2 linked regions of the Homo sapiens genome follow. The protein of the gene in region 1 purifies or fractionates together with the protein of each later gene. This does not show direct contact. Each region holds a gene or a part of one and is shown on either strand. Other genes may lie near its edges.

What was found.
Region 2: the proteins of EIF2B3 (region 1) and EIF2B1 purify together in Homo sapiens (affinity purification with mass spectrometry; 8 studies listed by BioGRID and IntAct, with this or other methods). This does not show direct contact.

What each region holds. Positions count from the first base shown.
Region 1 is NC_000001.11:44,878,404-44,885,699, reverse strand, and holds part of EIF2B3 (translation initiation factor eIF2B subunit gamma), read left to right. Parts: intron 1-3,960; coding exon 3,961-4,088; intron 4,089-5,691; coding exon 5,692-5,882; intron 5,883-7,296. UniProt on the Homo sapiens protein: Acts as a component of the translation initiation factor 2B (eIF2B) complex, which catalyzes the exchange of GDP for GTP on the eukaryotic initiation factor 2 (eIF2) complex gamma subunit.
Region 2 is NC_000012.12:123,619,806-123,623,882, forward strand, and holds the end of EIF2B1 (translation initiation factor eIF2B subunit alpha), read right to left. Parts: intron 2,957-4,077; coding exon 2,831-2,956; intron 2,116-2,830; coding exon 1,951-2,115; 3' UTR 601-1,950; downstream 1-600. Other genes in the region: ATP-dependent RNA helicase DDX55, read left to right, coding at 159-335.

The sequences.
Region 1 (7,296 bases):
ATCTATCATTGTTGAATATTTTATTGTTCTCCATTTTTATAAATAACGGGAATACCTTTTTTTGAAAGATTCTTGTTTATAATCTGATGATTTCATCTATTCAGCAAATATTTACTGAGTAATATATTTTCCTTAGGATAGACTTATAGAAATGGAATTACAGGGTGAAATTATATGAATATCTTCAAGTCTTTTGCTATAATGTTGCCAATTATTTTTCAGAGATTTTATCAGTTTATACTCCGACTCCCATTATGTGACAGTAACGGTTCTCAAAGCACTCTTATCAGTAATGAAAATTGTTTTGAATCAGTTAATTTAGTTGGAGGAGAAATTGCATCTTATTTTAGTTTTTTACTTCTTTGAAAATATTTTATATGTTTTTTTAACACATATCTGTTTATTAAGAATATTCTTTGCCCTATTCATAGCAATTATTTTGTCTTTTTATTTGGTGGGATTGTTTGCTAGTAGTCAAGTCTATTGTTCTCCTTTGTGATTGCTTGAGAAGAGCTTATGATTTCATGAGATAAGACAGGTGTTTCTAGGAAGGCTGTGTATAAGAGGGAAAGGAGAAAGTAAGGTTGACCAGGGCACTGTATCCAGCAAGTGGCCTAGGCCCAGGATGTTCACAATGGTTCACTGTAGCTTTGTAACATTTCTTGGCACAGCTCTGAGCTGCCTGCACTTTAACTAGGAAGCAGGAAGAGTAATTGTTTCCTTCATTATGTTTCTAAGTCAACTGCATCATGGGGATTGACCTAATGTTGAGCTCCAGCAGAGGTGGGTGGGACCTGGCAGGGCTGTTTCATAGCCTCTCTTCAAATCATGGATCCTCTCGAAGGTTCTGCCTGATGGGGCCATGTGCCAAGGCTCGTCTGCTTGCCTCTTGCAGTGACAGTTCTTTTTGGTCTGTAATGTAAATATCATGGCCCTGAAATCCCCTAGCTGTCCGTGCTTTGTCACTTCTTCAAAGGGAACTGACTTGTTTTCCAATGGAGGAGGAACATTTGCTGCCTACACTGGTTTGAAGCATTAAAAGGGGAGAAAAAGAGCTAAGAGTAAGTGTTGCTTCATTCTTTGTATTCACATGGAAATTTTTAAATCTTCATCAAAGGATCAGGAGAAAAATCACATTGAAATTCAATACAAGAGCTCACAGCTTAACACAGAATTTTTCAAAATTGATTCTTTAAAAATTGCAGAAACTATGAACTGTGTAGCTCCAGGGTTCATAGTTTTCCTTACCCTCCTCAGCCTCTGCCTCTGTCTTGCCTTCCTTTCTACCTACACTCCATCTGTTTGGTTTTGTGTCAGCATGCAGAGCTTTGAATGGGGGCTGGGAGAGGTGGTGGGAAGTATGCAGCAAGTCAGGTTTATAGAGCTGCCCATACTTTCACCCCTCTCTCAGGCCTCATTATCTCATCTCTCAGAATATTGTAACTGGTCTCCCTTTCTTCAGTTTCCTTATTCCAGGCTTTCTTCCACATTGCTACCAGAATTACCTTAATAAGAGATAAAACTGTTCATGTCACTTTCTTGCTTAAAAACTACCACTGGCAGCCAGGTGCGGTGGCTCACACCTGTAATCCCGGCACTTTGGGAGGCTGAGGTGGGAGGACTGCTTGAGTCCAGGAGTTCAAGACCAGCCTGGGCAACATAGTGAGACTTTGCCTCTACAAATAATAAAAAAATTAGCTGGGCATGGTGGCACATGCCTGTGGTCCCAGCTACTTGGGAGGCCAAGGCAGGAGGATCACTTGAGCCCAGGTAGTCAAGACTGCAGTGAGTTGTGATTGCACCACTGCACTCCAGCCTGGGCAGCAGAGCAAGACCCCGTCTAACAAGGAAAAATTACCACTGGCTTCTCAGTCCAGACTTTCTAGACTGCTACTGTAACTCCTCAGTGGGTTCATCTTACCTGCTGCCGAGATAGAGACGATTTATCAAGATGGGAGAATTGCAATAAAGAGTTTAATACACATAGAGGCAGCTAAACGGGAAACCAGAATTTTATTATTACTCAAATCAGCCTCCCCCAGAATTCTGAGGCTAGGGTTTTTCAAGGATGGTTTGGTGGGCAGGGGTCTAGGGAATGAGTGCTGCTGATTGGTTGGGGATGCAATCATAGGGGTGTGGAAACCAGTCCTCTGCTGAGCCCAGTTTTGGATGGGGGCCACAGAGGGGTCACTGGTCCCAGTGGAGTCATCCAGTCATCAGAAATGCAAAAGTCAGAAAAGACATCTTAAAAAGCCAATCTTAGGTTCAACAATAGTGATGTTACTTACAGGAGTAACTGGGGAAGTTGCAAATCTTGTGACCTTTGGAAAAATGATTGGTAATCATGAGAATTCAGGCCCCTCTTGTAATCCTAAATTTGTACGCTTTTATTAGTTTTATAAAGGCAGTTTCATTTTGAGAAGGGCTATTATCATTTAAACTATAAACTGTAATAAATTTCTGGCTAGGCATGGTGGCTCACACCTGTAATCCTAGCATGTTGAGAGGCCGGAGCAAGCGGATCACCTGAGGTCAGGAGTTCAAGACTCCTGACCTCAGGATGGTCAACATGACGAGACACCATCTCTACTCAAAATACAAAAATTAGCCAGGCATGGTGGCCGGCGCCTGTAATCCCAGCTACTTGGGTGGCTGAGGCAGGAGAATCACTTGAACTGGGAGGTGGAGGTTGCGATAAGCCAAGATCGCACCGCTACACTCCAGCCTGGGCCACAGAGCGAGACTCCATCTCAAAAAAAAAAAAAAAAAAAGAAAAAGAAAAAAAAGTCAGGCACAGTGGCTCATGCCTGTAATCCCAGCACTTTAAGAGGCTGCAGCAGGCGGATCACTTGAGGCCAGGAGTTTGAGACCAGCTTGGCCAACATGGCAAAACCCCATCCCTACCAAAAAATACAAAAACAGCCAGGCATTGTGGCATGTGCCTGTAGTCCCAGCTACTTGGGAGGCTGGAGCACAAGAATCACTTGAACCCAGGAGGCAGAGGTTGCAGTGAGCTGAGATCATGCCACTGCACTCCAGCCTGGGCGATAGAGCAAGACTGTCTCAAAAAAAAAAAAAAAATTAGCCAGGCATGTGGCTCTCACACCTGTAATCCCAGCTTTCCAGCCACTCAGGAGGCTGAGGTGGGAGAATCACTTGAACCTGGGAGGCAAAGGTTGCAGTGAGCTGAGATCGCACCACTGTACTCCAGCCTGGGCAACAGACAGAGTGAGACCCTGTCTCAGAAAAAAAAAAAAAAAAGTTTTCTCCCAAAGTTAGCTCAGCCTATGTCCAGGAATGAGCAAGAGCAATTTGGAGGTTAACAGCAAGATGGAGTTGATTAGGTCAGATTTCTTTCACTGTCATAATTTTGTCACTGTTATTTTTGCAAAGGTGGTTTCACCACAAAAAGCTTTCGTGATCTGGCCCCCTTGCCTACCTGATTAGCTTAACCTTCTGCTTTTCCTCTTAAACTCATACAGGCTACTGTCCATTGGATTATGAATTCCTTGAAGTCAGAAATGATGTATTTCCAAGGCCTAGCACAGTAACTCGCATATGCTTGGTAAATGCTACATAAATTAATTAGCAATATAAAATTCTAATAAGGTCACAGTGTGAGAGAACACTGAAAAACATGTGCTAGTTTCTCATCTCTCTGCTTTCCATTGCTAAGTATAAATAAAAACATAAATAAAAAACACACACTGAACTAAAGATCAGGTCCCTTCTTCCCCTAGTACAGATTCCTGATCACTTAGACCCAACATCCTGTCTCAGTACCCACCAGGAAGCACTCTGCTTCTCCGAACTGCCAAGTCAATGCCACATTTGATCTCTGACAGTCCCAAGGTGCCATGACAGGAAAGGATTTGGCTTTTCCTTGTATGCACAGAGCTTTTGATCCGGGTATGTTCCAGACAGTCAGGTTTCTCATATTTGGCCATTCTTTCTTTCTAGGTCAATAACTTCTATCCGGAGTGAACTGATTCCATATTTAGTGAGAAAACAGTTTTCCTCAGCTTCCTCACAACAGGGACAAGAAGAAAAAGAGGAGGATCTAAAGAAAAAGGAGCTGAAGTCCTTAGGTCAGTTCTTGGGTTGGTTCAGTAAGAGGGGCAAGGGTAGCAGCACCTTTGGAAAGAGTGGTTGGGCAGCTTAGCCCAGCCCAAGATGCCTGACTCAAGGCAGCAGACTATTTCTAGCCTACGAGGCAAGACAGGCTTGCCAACCCACTGAGCTCTGGGTAAGCTTGCTCAGGCAGATTCTGCCACTGTGCTCTCGGCAACAGGCTAATCATGCCTCCAGCCCCATTCTCTGATTCATAGCTCTGGTTTGGCTGTGTTCCTCACTAGACCATTTTGCCTTTAAACTCCACCTGCCACTTCTTAGTTCCCCTGTTCTCTAGGCTCTAGGCAGCCCCGTTCCTGATTAAACTCAACCTCTTTTATCAAGGGAAGGAAAGTGAAGGAATGTACAATTGCAGTCCAACCACAGGCCAACCCAGGTGTCTCCGTGCCAGGATCTGAAGATCGGATCTGTCTTGTTTGCTGTCATATCCCTAATCCCCGGCCCAGTCGTGGACTCATAGTAGATATTCTGAAAAAGTATTTATCAAATGAATACACTGACAGTACAGCATGATGATTAGGACTGTAGAACTGGGCATCAGACAGTTCTGGATTTGAAATCTGACTGCCTCTTACTAGCATTGTGTCTTTTTTTTTTTTTATTTTTTTGAGACGGAGTCTCCCTCTGTCGCCCAGGCTGGAGGGCAGTGGCGCAATCTCGGCTCACTGCAAGCTCCGCCTCCCGGGTTCACGCCATTCTCCTGCCTCAGCCTCCCCAGCAGCTAGGACTACAGGCACACGCCACCACGCCCGGCTAATTTTTGTATTTTTAGTAGAGACGGGGTTTCTCTGTGTTAGCCAGGATGGTATCGATCTCCTGACCTCATGATCCACCCGCCTCGGCCTCCCAAAGTGCTGGGATTACAGGCATGAGCCACCGTGCCCGGCCAGCATTGTGTCTTGAGGCAGGTTACTCAGTCCTCTGAGCCCCAGTTTTTTTATGAGAAAGTAAAAGATCTCAAAGGATCGTTGTAAGAGCTGAAAAACTAGAGCCCTGGTACTCTGGGCTCCAAGTTCTGTACTTTCTGTCATAGCACAGCTACCAGATATGGTAATAGAGACTAGCAGCACAAAGTCAACCTGGCTGGCCACTAAAGCCTGGATGCTGGCTTGTGTTATTTCATGATTTACAAGGGTCATCTGTTTTATTTTCCCTAGTGGTCTTGATTACCGGTCACATGCTTTTAGGACCTCGTATTAAGCATTTTTATATCATATGATATTTTAGGGAAGTACATTTCCTCTTTTAGTTTGACTTTCTCTTACAGATTTTAGTGGGATTTCCTCAGGGTTCATGTTTTGTGGGTGAGTTTCAAAGGAAGAAGTGTGAGCTGTAATCTCTTTTAAAACTTAGAGCCAAGCATGGTGGTGCACACCTGTAGTCCCAGCTGCTCAGGAAGCTGAGGTGGGAGGATCCCTTGAGTCTGGGAGTTTGAGACCAGCCTAGGCAACATAGCAAGACCTCGTCTCTTAAATAAACAAAAAAACAACTTGACTGAGTCTGTATCTGTTCTGTTATCTCTCTCTCATTTATTTCCTTGGTTGGGTGTTTGTTCTGAAGATATCTACAGTTTTATAAAAGAAGCCAATACACTGAACCTGGCTCCCTATGATGCCTGCTGGAATGCCTGTCGAGGAGACAGGTGGGAAGACTTGTCCAGATCACAGGTGCGCTGCTATGTCCACATCATGAAAGAGGGGCTCTGCTCTCGAGTGAGCACACTGGGACTCTACATGGAAGCAAACAGACAGGTGAGAGCATGAGTTAGAAAATCATGGGGCTCTTGTCCTAGAAACAGACTGAGCCACTTGTCTGTTTCTTCATTAGGTACATAGTAACTTGTTAAGAATCCCTGTCATTCCCAAGGTTGAGCAAGACCTGGCACGTCAAGGGAGACTACTAGGGTACTCAGGTGCAGCAAAAAGGGAAGCAGGGGGCCTGGTCCATAGTCAGGGCCTCTATGGCTCCAGGGAAAGGCTAAGATCTTCAGGAAGGCTAACTTCTGGCCTTTGGGTCAGCAGGTTCCTCCTGTTCTGTTCAGCATGGGGATATCTGCAGTACTTACTTCATAATAAGCAGGTAAATACTCTGTAATCATTACTCTGATGAAGTAAACATAGGCATACAGAGGAGGCTTCCCTGAGAAGGTGAAGGAGCAGAGTATAGAGTGGCCAGATGGCAAAGCCTCAGGAAAGGAATGACTTTGAGAGAGAATTGTCTGCAAACAGCATTAATGAGGAGTCTCTTGCTAGCCCCTCCTTTTAACCTTGAAGTTTGTGAGATATGGGGAACAAATAGCTTCCACTGAAGGAGAAGCAGTGTCCTCAAAGATAAGCCAGGCCTTAATGAAGGCAGGGGGTGGAGAGGGGGACAGTAAAGAGGCTGAAGGTATAAAGGAACTCTGTATTGTATAGTAGGCCCAGGAGGAAGGTTTTGGGAGGGAGGAATAATAAGACTAGGAAAAGGAAATGCAGAGCAGTAAAGGGTTTAGATGAGAATAAGAAAAGAGTCCGGGCACGGTGTCTTACGCCTATAATCCTAGCAATTTGGGAGGCCGAGGCAGGTGGATCGCTTGAGTCCAGGAGTTCGAGACCAGCCTGGGCAACATGGCAAAATCCTGTCTCTACAAAAATACTACAAAAATTAGCCAGGTATGGTGGCATGTGGCTGTAGTCCCAGTTACTTGGAAGGCTGAGGTGGGAGGATCACCTGAGCCTGGAATGCAGAGGTTGCAGTGAGCTGAGATTGCACCACCGCACTCCAGCCTAAGCCTAAGCAACAGAGTGAGACTCTGTATTAAAAAAAAAAAAAGAGGATAGGAAAAGATAAATAATTGAGGGAACTACATTGGGGTGGCATTCAAGGATAACAGAGGTGAGATAATGAAAAGATTAGTTATTGACATTGCTCCTGGTAGAACCCTGTGAAAATATAATTGCAGGTGTAGACCAGGGTGGCAGTGGAGCGCAGAATAATATAAAAGAAATTGTTGAAAATTGGGATTGAGGCCGGGCACAGTGGCTCACGCCTGTAATCCCAGCACTTTGGGAGGCTGAGACGGGTGGATCGCCTGAGGTCAGGAGTTCGAGACCAGGCTGGCCAACATGGTGAAACCCTGTCTCTACTAAAAATACAAAAATTAGCCAAGCATGGTGGCATGCACCT
Region 2 (4,077 bases), on another chromosome or scaffold:
GCTGTCAGATTTCTGTTACGTTGGCGACCAGGGTGGGGAATTTGCTCTATTTGCAGAAGCCAATCTGAGAGCTTATAGTTCTTGAGTTAAAACTGCTGGTTTCACTACAACACTATTGCTGAAAAATTTAGTAGTTTATTGGTTTCTTCTGCACTTAGGGTTCTGATATTGAAGATGAGGACATGGAAGAACTTCTTAATGACACAAGACTCTTGAAAAAACTTAAGAAAGGCAAAATAACTGAAGAAGAATTTGAGAAGGGCTTGTTGACAACTGGCAAAAGAACAATCAAGACAGTGGATTTAGGGATCTCAGATTTGGAAGATGACTGCTGATTCCAGTGCCACAGATGAACCCACAAGGACATAGCTGTTCCCTAACTTGGTGGATGGCTCCAGTTTGCTTTTAACGAAAATCACAACTTCAGGAGACATCTGAAAAGAATGATGTCTCTGAAAGCTGTCCTTTCAGATGAGGGAGAAATGAAGGATTTCACACTTCAGAATATTTTACTAAAAACATTCCAGTCTTGGCCGGGTGCGGTGGCTCCTGCCTATAATCCCAGCACTTTGGGAGGCTGAGGCAGGAGGATCACTTGAGCCCAGGAGTTCAAGACCAGCCTGGGAACACAGCGAGACCCTCTCATTAAAAACAACAAAACAAAACAATTCCAGTCTTGGAGTAGTCTAACAGAAGAAAATGTAAAATTATTTGAGTGTAAATAATAGATGTCAGTATTTATCATGATGGGTCACATATAGACATATGTACATATTATATATATATATATATATATATATATATATATATATATATATATATAAGCTCTTTTTTCTGAGGCTATTTTATAGTTATTTTTAAACATAAAGATACAGAAGTCTTCTTGACTTCTGATTTTCAAAACCATTCCTCAGTATCTTCAGGCATTTGACCTCCTGAATGTGCTTGGCCCTGGGCTTCAGTTATCCTTTGATGTCCTGCAGGGGTGGCTAATGTGCTGGGGTTTTTCTGTGTTAATAGTCACAGTATTGTTTTATTGGTGAATAGCTGAAAAACAGAGGGATTAAGTCATATTCCGGGAAAGAGAATTATAGTTTTTATGCCTCCTGTTGAATAAATGGTGTCCTGATTGCCTGGGTCTTAAGTGTGTAAATGTAGCTGGACAGTGTTTTCCCCTAGATGGCCTGGTCAGCTTGCAGTATTGATGCAACACCACATCAGCGTCTTTCATAGAGTTTATTTGAAAAGATGCTGAATTTATTCCCAAGTATAATTTTAAAAAGCTGTTTAGGACCCAAACATATTTAAACATCTCTTACACATACAGAATTTCAGTTTACAAATATTCCAGAAGGCATTTTCTTAAGCAGTGAACCATGCAGAATACTGTTGCTAAACATCGTTTCTGCCTTCCTCGTGTTCTCTTGGTAGTTTTTACTGTTTGGCTTGATCCTGCTGAGGAATGTGCTTACCACTGGAAGCCAGATGCAGATTCAGCAAGTGTTTCTTGCCTCTTACAAGGCACCGCGTGTAACGTCCTGACCAGCTGTTGGTCATTTGTGGCAGAGGGGTGTGGCTGCTTTTCGCCTGCATCTCGCGTGCTTTAGGCAGATCAGTCTGGAGTGCAGGGGAGGATGAAGACAGGTGGACTTGGGCTCATCTTTCATCAGTTAAGTAGCCAATTATCTAACTTGTATTTCTGGAAACTGAAAAGGAAAGTTTCTAGAAACCGTAAGAACAATTTAAGTTGGGATTTAGAATAGCTGACACATTTTTAGATGGGACTGAAATGAGTAAGAAAGGTTCTCCAAGATGTATGATTTTAAGTCCTTACTCCATAAATCTTCATTAAACACATCTCAGTTTTGGCCTGACTCACTGGGGTGTCAAGCAGCTACTCACCCTGCCTCAACTACGTAAGCTGCACCTTGGCAGGAAAGGGCTCACAGGTTACAGATAGAGCTTGATGAGCTCATCGCTGACTGCTGAGGGTGTCAGCACGCCCAGGTCTGTAAACAGCAGAGTGATTAAGGAAGGGGCAGTGTAGTCGACCCACGGATGCTCCTCTTTGAGGTCTTGTCCAGTCTGCGCGACCTTGAGAGTGTCTGCCTTATACTGAGGAGAGAAGTACACATTAGTCGGCACTGAATATTTAGTGCTCTGACCTGGTAGGGCCTTGGTGTGAGTGATCAGTGTGCTACTTCCTGAGACTGCTCTCTGAAAATGGGAGAAACTAAGCTATGCAGGACACTAGAGACGAGGGCAGAGTTGTGGCCATGAGCCAGATCATGGCAGTGTGCTGGCTGAGAGCTGTAGTGTAACAAACTTAAATCCCATGTCCCCTCATTCTCATGCCGGATTAACTTCTCCAGACCTCTCAAGGGAAGATCGAGAGTCACAATAGAGAGCTTGCAGCGTGCCAGGGACTGTGCTAAGATTATCTTAGAATCCTCATGACCCTGTCAGATACTGCTATGCCATTTTACAGACAAGAAAACCGGTTCAGAGGTTGAAATGAAAGGACTTGCCTCAACTCGCACAGTTTGTAAGTTGTGGTGATGGGAGCTGAGCTCAGTTAAGCCCAAAGCTGGGACTTACCCACCAGCTTCGGGCTTCCTCTCCACCCATCTATGGTGCTACTTAAAGAGACTGAAAGACTGAAGTTCTAGGGACAAATGTGTGAGTCCAATCACCAATTTATCTTTGTATTCCAAGTGTTGGGGAAAGTAGCAATAGGAAGTGAAAAAATTACTGGAACATTCTTAGGACTACAATTTCCAAAGGTTTCTGTTTAGACTTTAGTACCCCTTCAAATATGTAAAACTCTTGCCTTAAACTTATCTGGGACGTCTTGCTGGTTTAGTGGAAAGAGCCGGACAAACTTGAAACTTTCTGCAACCACATAGAAAGGTTTGTTCTGTGCTTTGGCACACACAGCCATCTGGTTGGTTCCAATCTGGGAAGGCAGAAAATGGAATGGATGAGCTCTAGAGTGCATCTGAAGTAGAAGCCACAGAAAAGCGGGCCGGGCACAGTGGTGCATGCCTGTATTCCAGCATTTTGGGAGGCCGAGGTGGGTGGATCACCTGAACCCATGAGTTTGGGACCAGCCTAGGCAACACGGTGAGACCTCGTCTCAATTACAATAAAGGAACAATTAAAAAACAGCAATAGAAAGTTATGTATATAATATAGATATACATATATCTAATACATATATTAGATATATCTAATTCTGACTTTGGAATCAAAAAAATAAATGTTTCTCAAAGGATATAGAAACAGCCACTAGAGGCTGGATGTGGTGGCTCACGCCTGTAATCCCAGCACTTTGGGAGGCCGAGGTGGGTGGATCACCTGAGGTCAGGAGTTTGAGACCAGCTGGCCAATATAGGGAAACCCCATCTCTACTAAAAATACAAAAAATTAGCTGGGCATGGTGGGATGGGGGGTGCCTGTAATCCCAGCTACTAGGGAGGCTGAAGCAGGAGACTCGCTTGAACCCGGGCACTGGAGGTTGCAGTGAGCCAAGACTGTGCCATTGCACTCCAGCCTGGACAGCAAGAGTGAAACTCCATCTCAAAAAATAAAAAAATTTAAAAAAACAAGTGTTGGCAAGGATGTAGAGAAATTGGAACCTTTGTGCTTTGCTAGTGGGAATGTAAAGTAGTGCAGCTGCTGTGGAAAATCATTAGTTTCTGAAAGTTAAATATATAGTTACCATGTGACTCAACACTCTGCCTGCAGACCTCCGCCTCCCAGGTTCAAGCGATTCTCCTGCGTCAGCCTGCCAAGTAGCTGGGATTACAGGCACCCGCCACCATGCCCAGCTAATTTTTTGTATTTTTAGTAGATATGGGGTTTCACCATGTTGGCCAGGCTGGTCTCGAACTCCTGACCTCAGATGATCTACCTGCCTCAGCCTCCCAAAGTGCTGGGATTATAGGCGTGAGCTACTACGCCCGGCCTTATGTTACATATATTTTAACTAAAAAAAGCTTTCATGAAGCTTTTCTAAATTAAATAATGGAGAGAGAGATTGTAATAAATTGAGGTCAAATGTGCTCAATTAAAATG